2 separate regions of the Homo sapiens genome follow, and region 2 is linked to region 1. A link means that fine-mapping ties the variant in region 1 to the expression of a gene that starts in the linked region. Tissue or cell type: whole blood. Region 1 holds a variant in brackets; the other region holds the start of a gene. All regions are shown on one strand. Distances are between the middles of the regions.

Region 1 (8,347 bases):
CTACATTGTCCGCTCCCAGTTACTTCCACCTCTTGGACAGTCCTGATGAACAGGCCATGCATCTTTCAGTTGTTCTCATGCCATGCTATGAGTGACCCTCATGCACACTGACCCTAGGCTAGGACTCAAAATCCTGGCAAATCATTTTTATTCCTGGATGCTTTTAGGAAAAGAATAAGATCTATCTCAAACTCAGGTTAGCTTCAATAATTTATAAAACAAAGTAAGATTTCCTCAAAGGTGGAGTGAGGCAGGCTTTAGGACACCAGATATGCATTTTATCTGGTTTCCAATTTTCTAAATAGCTGAACCAAATTCCACCTTGAAGGTGTGATTAAAGCCATAGCTTCAATGAGAAGATTTAGGTTTTGGATTTTTGCACTTATATAATTTTAGGGACCTTTGCTACAGTCTCTCCCAAGACTTGGAAAGAGACCTGTACCATTGAGATACTCTGAAGATTGAGTTACTTAGCTTCAGGATACATGTGCCCTTGGGTTCAACTGTACAATGTTGTTGCTTGATCTAAACCCTGGACTTGCTTTTGCTTCAGCACCATGAGTGATCTCATTTTGGTCCCTGTCCATCTAACTGTGCCTCTGCCTCAGGACACTTCTTGCCATGCCTGGAAACTGCTGAGCCGACACCTTCCCAAGTCTCCTTAACCAGCAATCTCTGCTATGGCTAAAACAGGCAGATAGGAGAGGGAGAGAATGCTTAGGGCGGTTCTACAATAAACCAGGAATGGGCTTTTGAACCTCAGTGGAGCAGAAAGAACGGGGAGAAGAGAGAATGAACTCGATTGGTTATAGAAGATACAAAAAAATGTAATATATAATGTCAATACTAACTGGAAGTGGGAACAATGGATGTGGAAAATTTGCTGATTTGGGCCTTGCATATTTAGATTGGGTGAAAATATGGTAGGCAGTAAAATAGTATTAAATACAAAACGCCTCAAATTGTGCCTGCTTCATTCATCCTATTCATAAGATTTGGGAAGAGTAATTAGCAAATAATCTTTCAGTAAAATCAGATATTCCCAGAATCAAGATTGTGAGTCAAATTCTTTTTTAGAATAAATGTTATGCATGATGTTCATATGTACTAATACAGTCTTTCCTATCTAGAAAAAGCAATACTGAATGCCTACCAAGATAAAAGGCAATGCATTTGCAAGGTTTAGGATGCAGACTTTGGGTCCAGACTTCCTGGGGTCAAGTCTCTGTTCCACCAGTAAGCAGCTATGCTACCAAGACAAAGTTATTTATACTCTTGTTCTTCAGTCTTCCCACTTGTAAAGTGCTGGTACTAATATCATGTACCTCATAGAGTTCTTATGGGGATTGAGTTTTTTCCCAGATTTATTAGGGTGTAATTGACAAAAATTGTATATATTCAAGGTATACGACATGATGATTTGATGTATGTATGCACTGGGTAATGATCATCACAATCAAAGTAATCAACACATCCATCACCACACATTGTTACCGGTGTGTGTGTATGTGTGTGTATGCATTAAGCAACATTAGGTTACTCTGTTAGCAAAGTTCAAGTCAACAATACAGTATTATTTACTATAGTCACCATGATGTACATTAGCTTCCCAAACTGAAAGTTTGTACCCTTTGACCAACACCTCCCCATATCCCCCACCCCCAGGCCCTGGCAATGCTATGTGTTTGACTTTCCAAGATTCTACATTATAAGTGAGATAATAAATTTGTCATTCTGTTTGGTTCTTTTTTATGATTTCTATTTATTTATTAAATATCTTATTTTGTGGATGCATTGGTTTTCTGCTTTTGTTGGGTCCCAGGGCTGATGGGATTGCCTCCAGATCACAGTTCGTGGTTGGCAGGCCTGTTACCAGGGGCTCGAGCTGGCGTGAATATTGTTTGGTCCCTGGGCAGACTGGACTTCCAGGATCTTGGTCAGTAGGGCTGGTACTGGTACAAGGGTCCACTTCAAGGTCTGCAGAAAATGGGCCTGTTACCAGGTCTGTAGACAGGTGTGGCTTCTTCTTGGTTCCTGGGAAGGGTCACTTGGTGGGACCCTGGGTGGGCAAGACTGGCCCCAGACTGCAGATAAGAGGAGCTAGAACTGAGTTACAGGGCTGCTTCAGGGTCTACAGCCCAGCCTCATGTCTCAGACCTGCCTCTGGAGGCACAGATGGGCGTATCTCCTGCCAGGTTCCTGGACAGGCAGAACTGATCACGGATCACAATTGAAGGGCACTGGAGACAAATTTCTGAGCTGTCGTAGGATCTGCTGTGGGATGGAGTTCAGCAAGCCTGCTTCCCAGGGTACATACAGTGTGACTCCTGGCAGGTTCCTGGGTGGGCAGGACTGCATTCAGACTGCAGTTTATAGGGGCTAGAGCCAAGTTAGAGCTTTTTCAGGGTCTGCTATGGGACTGAGGGTAGCAAGCCTACTTCCCAGGGCACAGATGGGTGTGTCTCCCAGCAGGTCTCTGGGCAGGCATGATTGGTCTCAGACTAGATGAGGGGCTAGAGCTGAGTTACAGGGGTACTTCAGCGTCTGCTGCCAGGCCTGTGGGTGGTGGACCTGTCACTTTAGGCATGGGTGAGCATGACTCCTCCTTGGAGGATGGTTCTGGTGGCAGGACCAAGGTGAAACAGGATTGTAGCTGGGTCCACAGGGGATGCGTTCATTTTTGATCAATGGCTTACTCCATAGTCAGCAAAATTGCCACCCAAGTGTGGGCCTGCCCTATTAAAATGAGCCTCCTTGGTTTTGGCCTATACCAGAATTTTAACATCTGCTCCCTAGATCCCAAAGCTCCCACTGAGGCACTTCTATCAGTGGATGGCTGCCAAATGCTTCTTGCTGTGTGGGTATATGAGCAGGGGGCCTCCTATTCCATTATCCTGCCAACTGTGATTGACTTATTATTTATAAAAACATGTTTAAAATTGTACCTGGCCTGTACATAGGAAGCAGTATCTGTATTTCATAAATAAGTGCATTTTTTAAGGTCCCCCCTAATTCCAAGATTATCAAATTCTGTAGGACGATCTATTCTAGCCAGGCTTTAGCATTGGTTTACTGTGCATTCAGATGATTCTGCATTAAAACAAACAATTTTGAAGTACTATGTATGTCCGAAGTCCTAGTTAAAGGGCAAGAGATCACTCAGTGCACGCTCGTGCTTTTATCTAGGCAATTTAATTCTTTTTATGAAGCAGCAGCATCTCCTGTTTCCCTTAGGGGAGTGTTCCAAAGGCAGGAGCTTTCATTGCCAAGATGCTGCCCTGATATTTAGCCTAGACTCTGATTTCTTCTATGTCTCACCATCCCTCCTAGTTAATCGACTATATATGCATTATCCTACTCCCATCCTCAGGAGCAGATATTGGGCAGTGAACTCCCTTCATCCTTTCTGATCTTTCTAGGCTTTTAGTGAAGTTTGAAGCTTTTCTGAACTGTTTGATCTGTGAACCCCTGTGTCACAAAATGAAGTCTTGTGGATCCAGAAGTCTTTATTTAAAGTATGTGGGAATTCCTTAGAAAACACACTTAGTATTTCTTACTTTCAACTCACATTCAGTTCATGAGTTGTTCAAAGGAGAAAAATGGTGTCTATCCACTGTTCATGTCTCCTGCTTGCTAATGTGGCTGTGCATTCATTAGTTGGAATTTTCCAGAATATATGGCTTGGGAAGAATCATTAATATTTTCATGATTCCAGATGCCGATTGGCCTGTAGTATTTTTTACAGATTATTTCTTCATACGCATTCTTAAGTCAACTTAGCCTTCCAGAAAACATCTAAGAATCTTTCAGTCTGTTGAAATTCCATTTGGCCCAATGAATTTTTATTGGTGCAATTAATTCTTACCTCATACTGCTAAGCATGTTTATGTTTTTCAGATATGCACAGGCTAAGAAAGTACCACATGGCAAAGGTGATGGTCCTGCATCTGCACAGATTTCTATAAGAGAAAGCAGACTACACATAAGAGTTAGTACAAGCAATAATACAATAGTAATATACACATTTATTGAGTGCATATTATGTGCAACTCTATATAATGTGTTGCCTCATGTAATATAGATGCCAATAACCCTCTAAAGTAATATCTGTTTAAAGATAATTTTAAGTATTTCATAATAGATCATATCAAAAAATAAGATCATATTGTATATATTAAGCTTTGTGCAGTGACAGTGCCAATGAGGTTTGCAATGTGTAGGCAATGAGGTTTATCCAAGGCACAATATTGCTGATTGAAAACTCTTCCCGTATTGCATATACCACCTTATGATCTACTTTGTTTTTCCAGGTCCAATGTGGCAGACAATTTTCCATGTCAGTATCTTAAGTTCTAATGATTAGATAATACTCCACTAATCTGACTTTTACCTTTCCTATTACACATTCTTTAAGATAGTAAAGAATATGTAAATTTAACATAGATTTATTTATTCATATTGATAGACATAAATCTGTTTATAGATATGGATATACAGATAGACATAGACAAATATATATATATATTTTTTTGAGATGGAGTCTCACTCTGTCACCTAGGCTGGAGTGCAGTGGCACGATCTCGGCTCATTGCAACCTCTGCCTCCCGGGTTCAAGCGATTCTCCTGCCTCAGCCTCCTGAGTAGCTGGGATTACAGGTGCCCGTCACTATGCCCAGCTAATTTTTTTAATTTTTAGTAGAGACAGGGTTACACCATGTTGGCCAGGCTGGTCTCTAACTCCTGACCTCATGATTCGCCCACCTTGGCCTCCCAAAGTGCTGGGATTACAGGTGTGAGCCACTGTGCCTGGCTGACAAAAATATTTTACACTCCATCACATTCCAGAAAATGTTTGTACTATCATGAATTTTATCAGAACTATAG[G/A]AAAAAAAATCAATTATTTAGTTGCTTTATTTTAAAATGTCTTTCTGCAAATAACTTTATAAAGTTGATTAGCAAAATTCAAATTTTATACCATTGTTTTTATAAAGCCTTCAAAATGTCCATGAAAAGAATTAAATAACATGCATGTGTGCACACCACCCCCCAACCACACACACTTCACAAATGCCTATAATCTCCTGTTAACCTAGGATACGGTATTGGAACTGTGTCATCAAAAATGTAAATTTTGAAATCCGTATTTCCTTGAATGTTATGTAAGAACACTTACTAGCCCAGTCAAATCATTATGGGCATAAAATGATCAAGCAAAAGACTTGCTTCATTAAATTATTAAGTGTCCTAGAGGTTTGTATTATAATTAAATATAGTGATTTCAAGTATTGTTTTTCAAGCTTCAGAGTAATTAGTGAAAACATAAACATATTTAATCAAGACTTGGAGGCAGTAATTCAACAGAGCCTTGTCAAACCAAGAAACCCTATTTGGTATTTAACAGGGTGTATACATTTCAGAGGTAAATAATATATTGCAGTAAATGATAAAAAAATAGAAATTTTATTCCTGAATAAATAATTAAAATTGTTCATATTGCCAGCATGTTTTTCTTCTCCAGTGTTAGTAGTGTGCTTTATAAAATAGTACACAGCCTTGCAGCTATATAATATTTTTTGAAATTGTAGTCTTGTTAATTCATTAAACATTTATGTATACAGTGAATAGTATTGCTCACTGGAAACATGACTGGATCAGATATACTTTAAAAATACATTTTCTATTGTCCAGGAACTAAGACTATTTAATTTTTTTTTTTTTTTTTTTTTTTTTTTTTTTTTTTTTGAGACAGTCTCCTTCTGTCACCCAGGCTGGAGTGCACTGGCGCAATCTCAGCTCACTGCAAGCTCCGCCTCCCGGGTTGACGAGATTCTCCTGCCTCAGCCTCCCGAGTAGCTGGGATTACAGGCACCCGCCACCACGCCCAGCTAATTTTTTGTGTATTTTTAGTAGAGACGGGGTTTCACTGTGTTGGCCACACTGGTCTCACACTCCTGACCTCGTGATCTGCCTGCCTCGGCCTCCCAAAGTGCTGGGATTACAGGTGTGAGCCACTGTGCCCAGCCAAGACTATTTAATTAAATCATCTTCTGATGTTCAGAAAATTCTGGAAAGGATTTATATACACAAATAAAGAGAAAGTTTAGGAATAACACATCTGAAAAGATTCACTCAGTAAGAAAACAACTATACTTATTGATCTTGACTTTAAAAGAAGGAAGAGAAACTAAACTATGCCAAAATTTATTTTTTTAAGTTCAAAGCATGTATCTTATAGAAAAGTTTCTGAGGTCAGAAAATGTGCCATATTTAACTTAATGTTCAGCATGTAATACCATTTCGCATGGATATCGACACTGAGAGTTTCTGTAAGAATAACAGTGGTCTTCTCTCTACTGGAGGAAACAGTTCCATTCATTAGAGGGGTCTGCATCATGCCTATGAGTGGTCATTGTTAAAAAGAGAAGGACAAAGAGAGAGAGAGAGATTCATATTTATACCCTTTCATTAATGTACATATATGCAACTCTTCAGGTGCCAGAAATTGCATGAGGGACTGGAAACAAGACACATCTCTTGCCCTCTTGGAATCTGTTTTACCGTGTAATTAAAATATACTGTGATAAGCACTCTGCAATGAGGGCTATGAGTACAAAGGACTGTGGATCCCAAAGAAAAGGAGCTGCCCCGCCCATCCTATGGAATCAGGGAAGGTTTTCCTGATGTGTTCTCTTAGTTCCTGCTGGCGATGCCTCCTTTAGGCCACCACTGTGGCTTGTAGCCATAGTCTCTTGCCTGGTCATCCTGCTTCCTGACCCTGATCCTCTCAACTTCAAATATGATTTAGAAGTTTTCAGTGTCTCCACATTATGCTCAGGATAAAGTACAAACATTGCATCATAACTCAAAAGTTTCTTCATGACTGGCTGCCCTTTCCCTCCATCTTAATCTCTAGCTACCCTGTTGTACTTGACTGTCAAAGTGTATCAAAATACTTTGAGTTCCAAAAACGTGTTACGTTCTCTCTTAACTTCTGCCTTTTGTTCATGCACTCCCAAGTTCTAGAATAGTCTCTTTCCTCTTACTGAACATTTACCTGGCTAATTCATACTCATCCTGTAGGTCTCAGTTTGTATCTGTTCATCCAAGCCAGAACTATGAGTGTTGTCCTAGTCTCTTCCCTTTACTTCCTCCTTTCCATTCAATTCATCACCATGTCCTGAAAATTCTAAGACTAAGCATCTTTGCTGTCGGTTATTTTTAAATTTCTCCTACTTATTACAATAAAACCACACAGTTGGTATTTATGTTCCTCTTTTACAGGTGGTGAAACTGAAGCTAAGAGATATTAAGTTAGTCACTCAAGATCACACTCTTAATAACTCATAAGCTAGGATTCGAGCCAAAGTCCATTTGACTCCAAAGCCAAAATGCTCTACCACCTTGCCTTTCCATTGCCAGAGATATGCTAATGACCATTACATGCTTGTTCCAAAACAATAGTACTTTGATACTTTTCATTTTGTTTAATTGTTTCTTCCATGGTTATGAAAAAATCAGTGGCTAATGTAACTGGCACCAGACTTTTAAACATATTCATCTCTTCAACAATTCCTTTAAGATTTCTACTTAACGCAAAGGCTATTTTAAGTGAGGCAATGAGACTTGATTGATTGTTGCTACTTTATTTCTAAGGCATAGAAATGGAGAAATAGTTGGAAAGTGAATTGAAGCAGCATTACATTTTGTATCAAGGAAAAATGTATTATTTATAAAGTATTGCAGGCACACTGTAGGAAATTCATAAAATAATGACACAAAACAAGTGAAAGATAAAATCACCTGTACTTATTCCTTCCATGGATAACACTGCATCAAATTTTGCTGTCTATTTTTCTTAAATGAAGTCTATGTATCATATTGTATACAAACATATCATACCACCTACTACCTACTACTCACTGTTTTGATAAATGGGGAATATTGACATGGAAAAAACAGAGTGCTGAAATCAAAGTTCTTGCAGCATGGTAGAATTATATTTAACGGTAGAATTACATTTGTGATTTAAATACATTTAAATTTAAGGGATAAAAATGGCCTGGGCCGGGCACAGTGGCTCATGCCTGTACACTTTGGGAGGCCGAGATGGGTGGATCACGAGGTCATGAGATCGAGACCATCCTGGCTAACATGGTGAAACCCCGTCTCTACTAAAAATACCAAAAAATTAGCTGGGCATGGTGGCAGGCGCCTGTAGTCCCAGCTACTCGGGAGGCTGAGGCAGTAGAATGGCGTGAACCTGGGTGGTGGAGCTTGCAGTGAGCCGAGATCGTGCCACTGCACTCCAGCCTGGGTGACAGAGTGAGACTATGTCTAAAAAATAAAA
Region 2 (8,347 bases), 56 kb before region 1:
GAATAGATATTTTATTAACTTTTTGGATCCATGGAGATGATGATTAGTTTTTGAATTTTAGATTTTTTCTTACAGGATCTTAGTGTTCACTTAATTTTCCATAAGTATATTAATTTTCCTTGTAGTATACGTGGAAAATTGAGGTCCAGGTTGTATTTGAACATGTCCAGTGAAAGAAAACAAAAACAAAAACAAAACAAAACAAAAACCAGCAAAAACAAGCCAAAACAAAAAACCAAAAGCAGCTCAGTCCATTCTTGGTATGTCTTCATTTACTAAACTTGGGTGACATTGATGTATAAATCAACAATCTTTTCAATCGTCTTCTAACTATTTATGAATCACTCCTTTGTTACCCAGTTCTTATTTTTCAATCGTGCTGTCAAACATATCACACGATGCTCTTGGTAAACAGTTTACTAAAAATGTCCCAATAATTCCATCAAAAGAGATATTAACATAACTTGTTCTCTAAGTGAAACCATATTAATCACAAGTGCTTACAAAATAACCATATGATAATGTTAGAATTTTGGACAACATCTATGTCAAGCTCAAATTAGAGCAAAAATGAAATTAGCAATCTGTAGATTCTTCTATTTGTTTCTGATGGTTAATAACATTTTAGCTGCAAGACAGATACTAAATGTAAAGTATTATAACCCCTTTATTTTAAAAATTAAGAAATTGAGGTTCAAAGATATAGCAGCACCTGCTCAGATTTTACTCAAACTGGAGTTTGCAGGGCACTTTCATTCATAGAGAATCAGCAGCCCCTCTGAAGCTTCTGAAGTGTTTCTGTTTTCACCCGGTTGATTCTACATGTGATAGGAGTCAGGGCTCAGGGTTTCCATGCTTTAAAATATCCAGATGAAATCACGACTAAACTTTTATCTGTACTTCTGGCCAACCAACCCCAAACTGCATTTTCCAGAGAGACTCCTATGTTAGTGGTTTTCCATCAGCAACAGCAACTCACAAACTGCAGCTTTGTGTAACTTTTGAGCTTCTTGAGTTATTAAGCATTTAATGTTTTCTCAACCTTTTGCTTCTAGTGGCAATTTCTTTTCCTTTCCCTTTGGGCTCCTTGCCTGAGACTTCCTAGAGCAGCGGTTCCCAACCCCCAGGCTATGGACTGCTATCCATCTGTGGCCTATTAGGATCTGGGCCACACAGCAGGAGGTGAGCAGTGGGCAAGCCAGCGAAGCTTCACCTGTATTTAGTATTTACAGCTTTTTCCCATCACTTGCGTTACCGCCTGAGCTTTGCCTCCTGTGAGATCAGCGGAGGCATGAGATTCTCCTAGGAGCATGAACCCTATTGTGAACTGTGCATGTGAGCAATCTAGGTTGTGTGCTCCTTGTAAGAATCTAATGCCTGATGATCTGTCACTGTCTCCCATCACCCCCAGATGGGACCATCTAGTTGCAGGAAAACAAGCTCAGGGATCCTATCAAGTCTACATTATGGTAAGTTGTATAATTATTTCATTATATATAAAACAATGTAATTATAATAGAAATAAAGTGCACAATAAATTTAATGTACTTAAATAGTCTCCAAACCATCCATCCCACCCCACAGGTCCGTGGAAAAATTGTCTTCCACGAAACTAGTCCCTGGTGCCAAAAAAGTTGGGGACCACTGTTCTAGAGGACAACCATTTTTCTTTACTCATTTTTCTCCTATCAGCTTTTCAAAACACTGTGTTATATATATATTATATGTATAATATATATACACATTATATATATTACACACATGTATATATGTAAAATATCTGTTTTTGTAAAATCAAACTAATAATCAAACAGTGCAGATATATATAATGAGGCAAAGGTCCTCTCTCATTAACATCTCTTCCTCTGCCCACAGAGACACATAACTCACCTTCATCCTCACATCTCAGAATTAATGACTGAGTGTTTTTTTATTTCAATAGCATGAACATACTACATAAACATACATAACCTATAATTGCATAGCAATTTCCAACTCTGTGAGAACTATCAGTCCTGTGCTCACCCAACAATTTTTTAACTTTAAAAACTATTGTTTCTTTGTTCACTCAGCTTTCTTCATGACTCCAGATCTACTCAATACTTCCATAGTTGATTCAAAAATTATATTATTTAATCGTATTTTGTCTTTTTAAAAATTGGTTTCACCATGTTTTTAATGTAAAGTGATAAAACTGCATAGATAACTATATAATGTGGGAAGTTAGAGATTGAGGCGTAATTGTATACCAGCTTACTGATGAAAAAACTGAGGCAGAGAGAGATTTAATGACCTCTCTGAAATCATGTAACTTCAGTTAGGGAAGTGGCCGAAATAAAAATCCAGGCTTTGAGACTTCTGATCTAATGATTCCACTTCATCATGTCATAAGCTCTTTCAGAATCTTCTAACATTTGTACACCACCTTATTCCTTCTGGGTACTCAATAAATGACTGGGCTTGTTGTTCTAGTACTCACAATAATTCAAAAAAAAAAAAAAAAACAGAGGAAAACATGTCTTACCACATGATAAATTGATGTCAGAATAAGTTTACTGTAGTAATTTTTTCAGTGTGAAGGTTGTTACCTGTGAATGAAAAACAGTGTAACAACAGCAAAATAAATTCTGTCTCAGTTTTTGTTTTTTTTCTTTTTATGTGAAAGGTTAACACTTCAACTGACACTACAAATGTTTATTAATTTGGCTTTAACTCACAGAATTTGAATTGGGTAGAAAACCTTTGAATATTACTTTTCCCATGAATGTTTTCCCCATACTTGGTGTTGCCAAAGAGATTACCTTGGCACTGTTTAACTAAACGTTTATTGATTAATTCATTCAAGCATCAAAGCTAATGAATACTTACAGATAGCAGTTGCCACAAACAAATTTTAGGAAGAATATCTTATTGCTAGGTATAGTAACTAGAAAATTATAAGAATTTTAAATCATGGCTCCACATGTTGAAAGATCAAAAAGGAAGGCTGTTAAATCAGAAAGAACAGACTTCAGAATGATGCAGGTTGTTTGTTTCCCCAGGGAAAATGTTCTTTCCAGGGCCAAGAGCATTTTCTTATTTTTTCTATATTCCTTCCATCCATCCATCCATCCATCCGTCCATCCATCCATCCATCCACCCACCCACCCACTCACCCACCCAAGCATGCATGCATGCACCCTACACACCTGTGTCAAATACGAAGCTGGATCCTCAGGACACAGTGGTTTCTGCTCTCTCTGAGTTTCAGTTCTAAATTTAAAGGCAAACTCAGAAGTTTCTAAATGTGTGAGCTCTTTTCCCTTCTATCAAATCAATTGCATTTTCCCACACTTCCAACATTCATTTTGTTGTCCACCTGTTCATGGGAAGCAAAGGCACCTTTGCAGACAGATTTCAGTCTGGCTTTCTTTCATCCAATTGCAATGGGCCTCTGATCTTTTCATGGCTGGCTGCTTGCCATGCATGTCTCAACTTAACGAGCACCTCCTTGGAGGGGCCTCTTTTAACCATCTCATCTGAAGTAGTCATTCACCAGCTGCCATCACATCAACCTGTTTTATTTTCATTGTAGCATTTGTCCTTGATATTTTTTCATTTGCTTATTTAATTGGTCCCCCTTTCTGCCACGAAAGCTCTATGAGGGCAGACAGGTGCCTCATCTGCTTCTTTGCCTCCGAATTCTGAAATGATTTGAAACGCAGTTGGCATTCATTAAATATTTGTTGACTTAATGAATGGATTCTTAATTGGCTACTACTGCTTAAAGGTCTACAAATACTGATTCATCCTTGTTGACAAGTTTTTACTTCTCACACGTATGCATATTAATCAGAATTTAAAACTAAGTCTTAAAAATAAAACAGCTTGGAAACGTGGGAAACATCTGGCAGAGAAATCATTCTTGCATTCGCAGTGACGGAAGGAAAATTTTTTCTCTGAAGTAAGCAGGTTGTTGGCCTCTTTATCGGTATCATTGGAAAATGCTTGCCTATTTTTGTTGGTTTTCTCAGGAACTGGGAACATCTGGCGTTTGGAACATAGAACGTTGTTCATTTTTAAAGCAGAGTCATAATAACTTTATGAGTTGAGGGTAAGAGAGAAAATGACCAAAGAAAATGAAGGCAGTCTGGAGAAAGAAGAGGCTCGTGTCCCTTTTAAGGAACAGGTTTCCTTGGCTCTTTGAGAGTGGTTCTTAAAGGAAGCTTCCTACGAAGTCCGCAGTTGGTATCCTTACTAAATGAGCCAACTAAATAGTGGAGGGGAAAAAAAGAGTGCGTGCCTGGCTCCTCCTAGTTCAGGCTCATACCGCCTCCTGAAAGTTGTGGCTACAGGACAGGCTTTGGCTGCTTTCTAGAACGTCGCTCGGATCCCTTTAAAGGTGGGGATCTTGACGGAGAGTGCGGGGGATGAAGGCGGGAGCTGAGGGCTGGAGAGTCTCTGTTGACATAGTAACTCTTCAGCTCCGTCTCCCTTGCTCTCCGCTCTTACGCTTCGCTACCACCAGCGGCCCCGCCTGTGCCCTCTCTGCCCGGGCGCCCCAGACGCATCCTCGCGGGGTCTCCTCGGCCTGACCTGCTCAGGTCAAGATCCTCTTTGCACCCCCTTAAGTGGTGACTTTTCCCCGGGCCAGTGGGCGAGCCACTTGCGGCGGGCGTCTGCACCCCCTGCTTCACCGTCGTCCCCTGGGCACCGGTCTGCCCAGGTCCAGTTCGGCCGCTGACGCGAACCCTCCGCACCGGGTCCCCGCTGGAACTGCCCACTCGGCTCCCCCGGGAGCGGGGCCCAGGCCAGTCGGGCGTTCCCGCCATGAGCCAGAGCCCGGCGTTCGGGCCCCGGAGGGGCAGTTCTCCCCGGGGCGCTGCCGGAGCCGCTGCGCGGCGCAACGAGAGCCAGGACTATCTGCTCATGGACTCGGAGCTGGGAGAAGACGGCTGCCCGCAAGCCCCGCTGCCTTGCTACGGCTACTACCCCTGCTTGTGAGTGCCGGCGACGCGGGGCGGATCGGGCGCGGGCTGCGCGGAGGGAGGTTGTGCGCTCGCAGGAGTGGCCGAGTCCGTCCGCGCGCGTCCTGAACCCGCGTGTGTACCTCCTAGGACGGTGCTGGGAGGTCCGCGAGAGCCAGGGCTGGGACCTGAGTGAGTGGAGGGGCGCGCGGGGAGTGGGGGAGGCGGGGTTGTCTAGGTTTGCTCCTCGTAGGTACGCATGGATATGTTTGCCCACGAGAGTGAGACCGCATAGTAACACCACCATTGCAGGTGATTAGATGGGTGGTCGATTTCTCCAGACCCCTTCATCCTGCGCTCTACAAGAGACAGGATCGCTACGTAACAGGCGGGATCTGAACAGGGGGCTGATTCAGATGTGCGCCCGGGTGACTCTTAGCCTATGTGGGGGAGAGATGACTAGAACTCCAAGGGTTGGAGCTGCCTGGGTGCTGGGTGCGCCCGGCGGTCTCCACGCTTGGCTTAGCGTTTCGGGCTGAGCGCTGAGGTCCTTGGACCGTGGGACAGCCAAAGTTAGACCAGGACCTCTCCCCGGTCCTGGGGCCTTGGAGTGAAGACAGAAATAGAACCAATAGGACTCTCCACCGGCGGCGCGAACCTTTTCACCCGGGGCGTCTGGGGAGACGAGCCTGTTAGGGGCTGGGAGACTCACGGGCTATAGAAGTGAGGGCGTCGGGTCGTTTGTATTGGGCTGTGGGTAACTGCAAGCTTTTGTTTATGAATCTAGGGTATTTTTTTTTTTAGCTGGGTGGGTGGCGGGAGGGGAGGTAGGGAGTAAGCAGAGTGGACTCCAGAAGAAAAGACTCCGCTTCCCCGACACCGCTGTGACCACATGTGCAGCGGGCAGATAGCATTTCTGTCCCATTGCCCCTTTGGGTGATTGGGTAGTCAAGTTTCCTGACTTGTCACATCCACCCGCAAGCGGTTTCCCGAGGTTCTCAGCTCTATAAACAGCTTTAGTTGGAGGGAGGATTCCACCCCATAGGCGCCTGGCAGACCCTCCTGATAGATGGGTGCTGTGTCAGGGCTGCCCAGCCTCAAGCCCTGCTGCGGTGCCCTTTCGAAGTAAGAGGTGAGCCGCAGTAAAGGGAGCATCTAACTTTTCTCAAAGATAAAGGAGAATAGTTAGAACTGGTTTCATTCATCTGTGTGCTGTGCAAGTTAAGAGCATTTACAATTATGTATATGTTTTTCTTTTTAAAAGTTCAAGACATAATTCCCATACCACGTAATTCCCCCATTTAACTTGTACAATGCACTATTTTTAATATATCCATAAAGTTGTACAGCCACCACTAATATCTAATTCCAGGACAATTTCATCATCCCTCAAAGAAATCTTACACTTGATGTGTTAAATTAGAAGATATTTTTATGTCTCATAGTACAGACTTTTCCAACTTTAATGGCTAGCATGCAAATCATGTGGAAATCTTGTTAGAATGCAGATTTTGAGAAGGCAGGTCTTAGGTACAGCCCAAGATTCTCCATTTCTGACATCCCTCAGATGATGACAAGGTTGCTAGTCCGTGGACCACCCTCTGAATAGCAAGGTGATATATGACAAGAAAAAACAAGAATAGAAAGAAAAATAAATAAATCTTGGATATTCTGAAATGCTGCTATTTTAAAATGTACTTTGAAGGTGTAAGTTTAAGACATAGATGGAATTTTTATTGGTTAAACTTGAGATCTCCGATGTCTGAGGGTTATAGGTTTGGCAACATTACCTCCTGGCTAAACTAGGTGACTAAAAATTTATACGGCTTTTTAAAAATTAGACTGTTCCATGAACAAAACCTTTTTTCATTCTGTAATCCATATAATCACTTGTCGCTGTGTCTGTCAAAAAATGATTTGATTAAAAACCTTGTGGTTATATATCAGTAGTGAGAGAGACTAAATAAAGTAATAATTCCAAGTTGTCCTGAAAACTCTTCCCAGTGCTTTCTTCAAATGTGGCTTACTGCCTAATTTGTCTAATTATTGTTATTACATTTTTTAGCTACAAGTTCTCACTATGTTACCCAGGCTGTCCTCAACATGCAGTATTTAGTGAATATTCCCTTAGTTCAAGAATCCTGGACTATTCTTAATAAATAGAACTGAGCAGCAGAGTGATGAACAGAAATATTTTAATGTGCTTCAATTCATAACATCCACCCTCTGCGTGATGTCAGAGGTACTATAATACATGTAAGAGTGAGCCATGCTCTAGAATTTGGGTTTGGTTTTATATGAATCTATTATTTCCAAAAGGTTCTATAGTTACATTTCATCCACTGTTTTCTCTGACAAGATTTTAAGTTTTTCTAGTTGAATAATCAACTAACAGAAAAATTTTAACCAAGAAACAAAAGTACTTCACACCTATGATGTATGAGAAAGAGCTAAAGAAAATTACTCCCTCTGGTAGAGTAGAAATCAACTCTTCCATATGCTTTTGACTTGTGATTTATACAATTTCATAGTGGGAGGTGTATCATTTCTGAAAGTGGCAATCACTAGTACATTTTAGATATGAATATTGCCATTTCTCAAATCATTGAGATTTTCCCTTATAAGATCCCAAGTCTTTGTAAGTTGTCATTTCTGTGGAATAAATTCTATGACTCTTGCCAAAAATTTCTGTTTCATAGTTTTCTTATTTAGAAAAATTTTTTACATATATTTATGGGGCTTCAGTAGTAATGGGGCTTCAGTAGTAATGGGGCTTCAGTTTTTATTTATATTTATGGGGCTTCAGTTTTCAGTAGTAAAACTGAAAATTATGGTAAATTATCTTATTTGTGAGCAATTATGTGCAATAAGGCCTTAATAGTTAAATAAGGCCTTAATAGTTAAAATAGTAATAAATTGAAATGGTGTTCAGAAGAAAATGGCTCAGATTTTCTCTTTATTCAACTTTCAATAGCAAATCAATTAATATTCTCTATTGTGATCAATTTGTAATGGTGATTAGCAAGAAAGGCCCATGTCCTGCCAAGGTCCCAGGAGGCATTTCAGATTTCCTTTATTTAGAACTTTAAAGGTATGTTTACAGTTCATCACTGCTGAACTTGGGGAAGAATCCCAGACATTTAAAAAAGTTAAGCATTTCTAAAATCTCAGGATCTGAAAACACAGTCCAACTAAACTTTCTGCTTGGGAAGGAGTAATTGATTGATTATGAATAATGAAACAGTAAACTGTAAACTAAAGCACTGGCAATTCAGCTGACTGAGACAATCTGAAAAATTTATGGTTACAGACACCTGGCAGTACTGGATAAAAGATTTTAAATGATTTTAAAACATCTCCCAATTTTGTGAAAAATAAAAGGGTAATCTACCATGTGCTAA

The links.
Region 2: TRPC6 starts here. The variant in region 1 is fine-mapped to the expression of TRPC6 in whole blood (TOPMed, PIP above 0.99).

Annotation. Positions count from the first base shown.
Region 1 is chr11:101,524,257-101,532,603 of GRCh38, reverse strand. All of the region lies in intron 1 of TRPC6 (transient receptor potential cation channel subfamily C member 6), which reads left to right. Among named protein-coding and RNA genes, the nearest start is that of MIR3920, 8.5 kb to the right of the region's middle. The variant G/A (reference allele first, on the strand shown) is at 4,885.
Region 2 is chr11:101,579,966-101,588,312 of GRCh38, reverse strand. It overlaps TRPC6 (transient receptor potential cation channel subfamily C member 6), which reads left to right and starts at 4,306. Exons shown (of 13, transcript NM_004621.6): 1 at 4,306-4,979. The coding sequence starts at 4,810.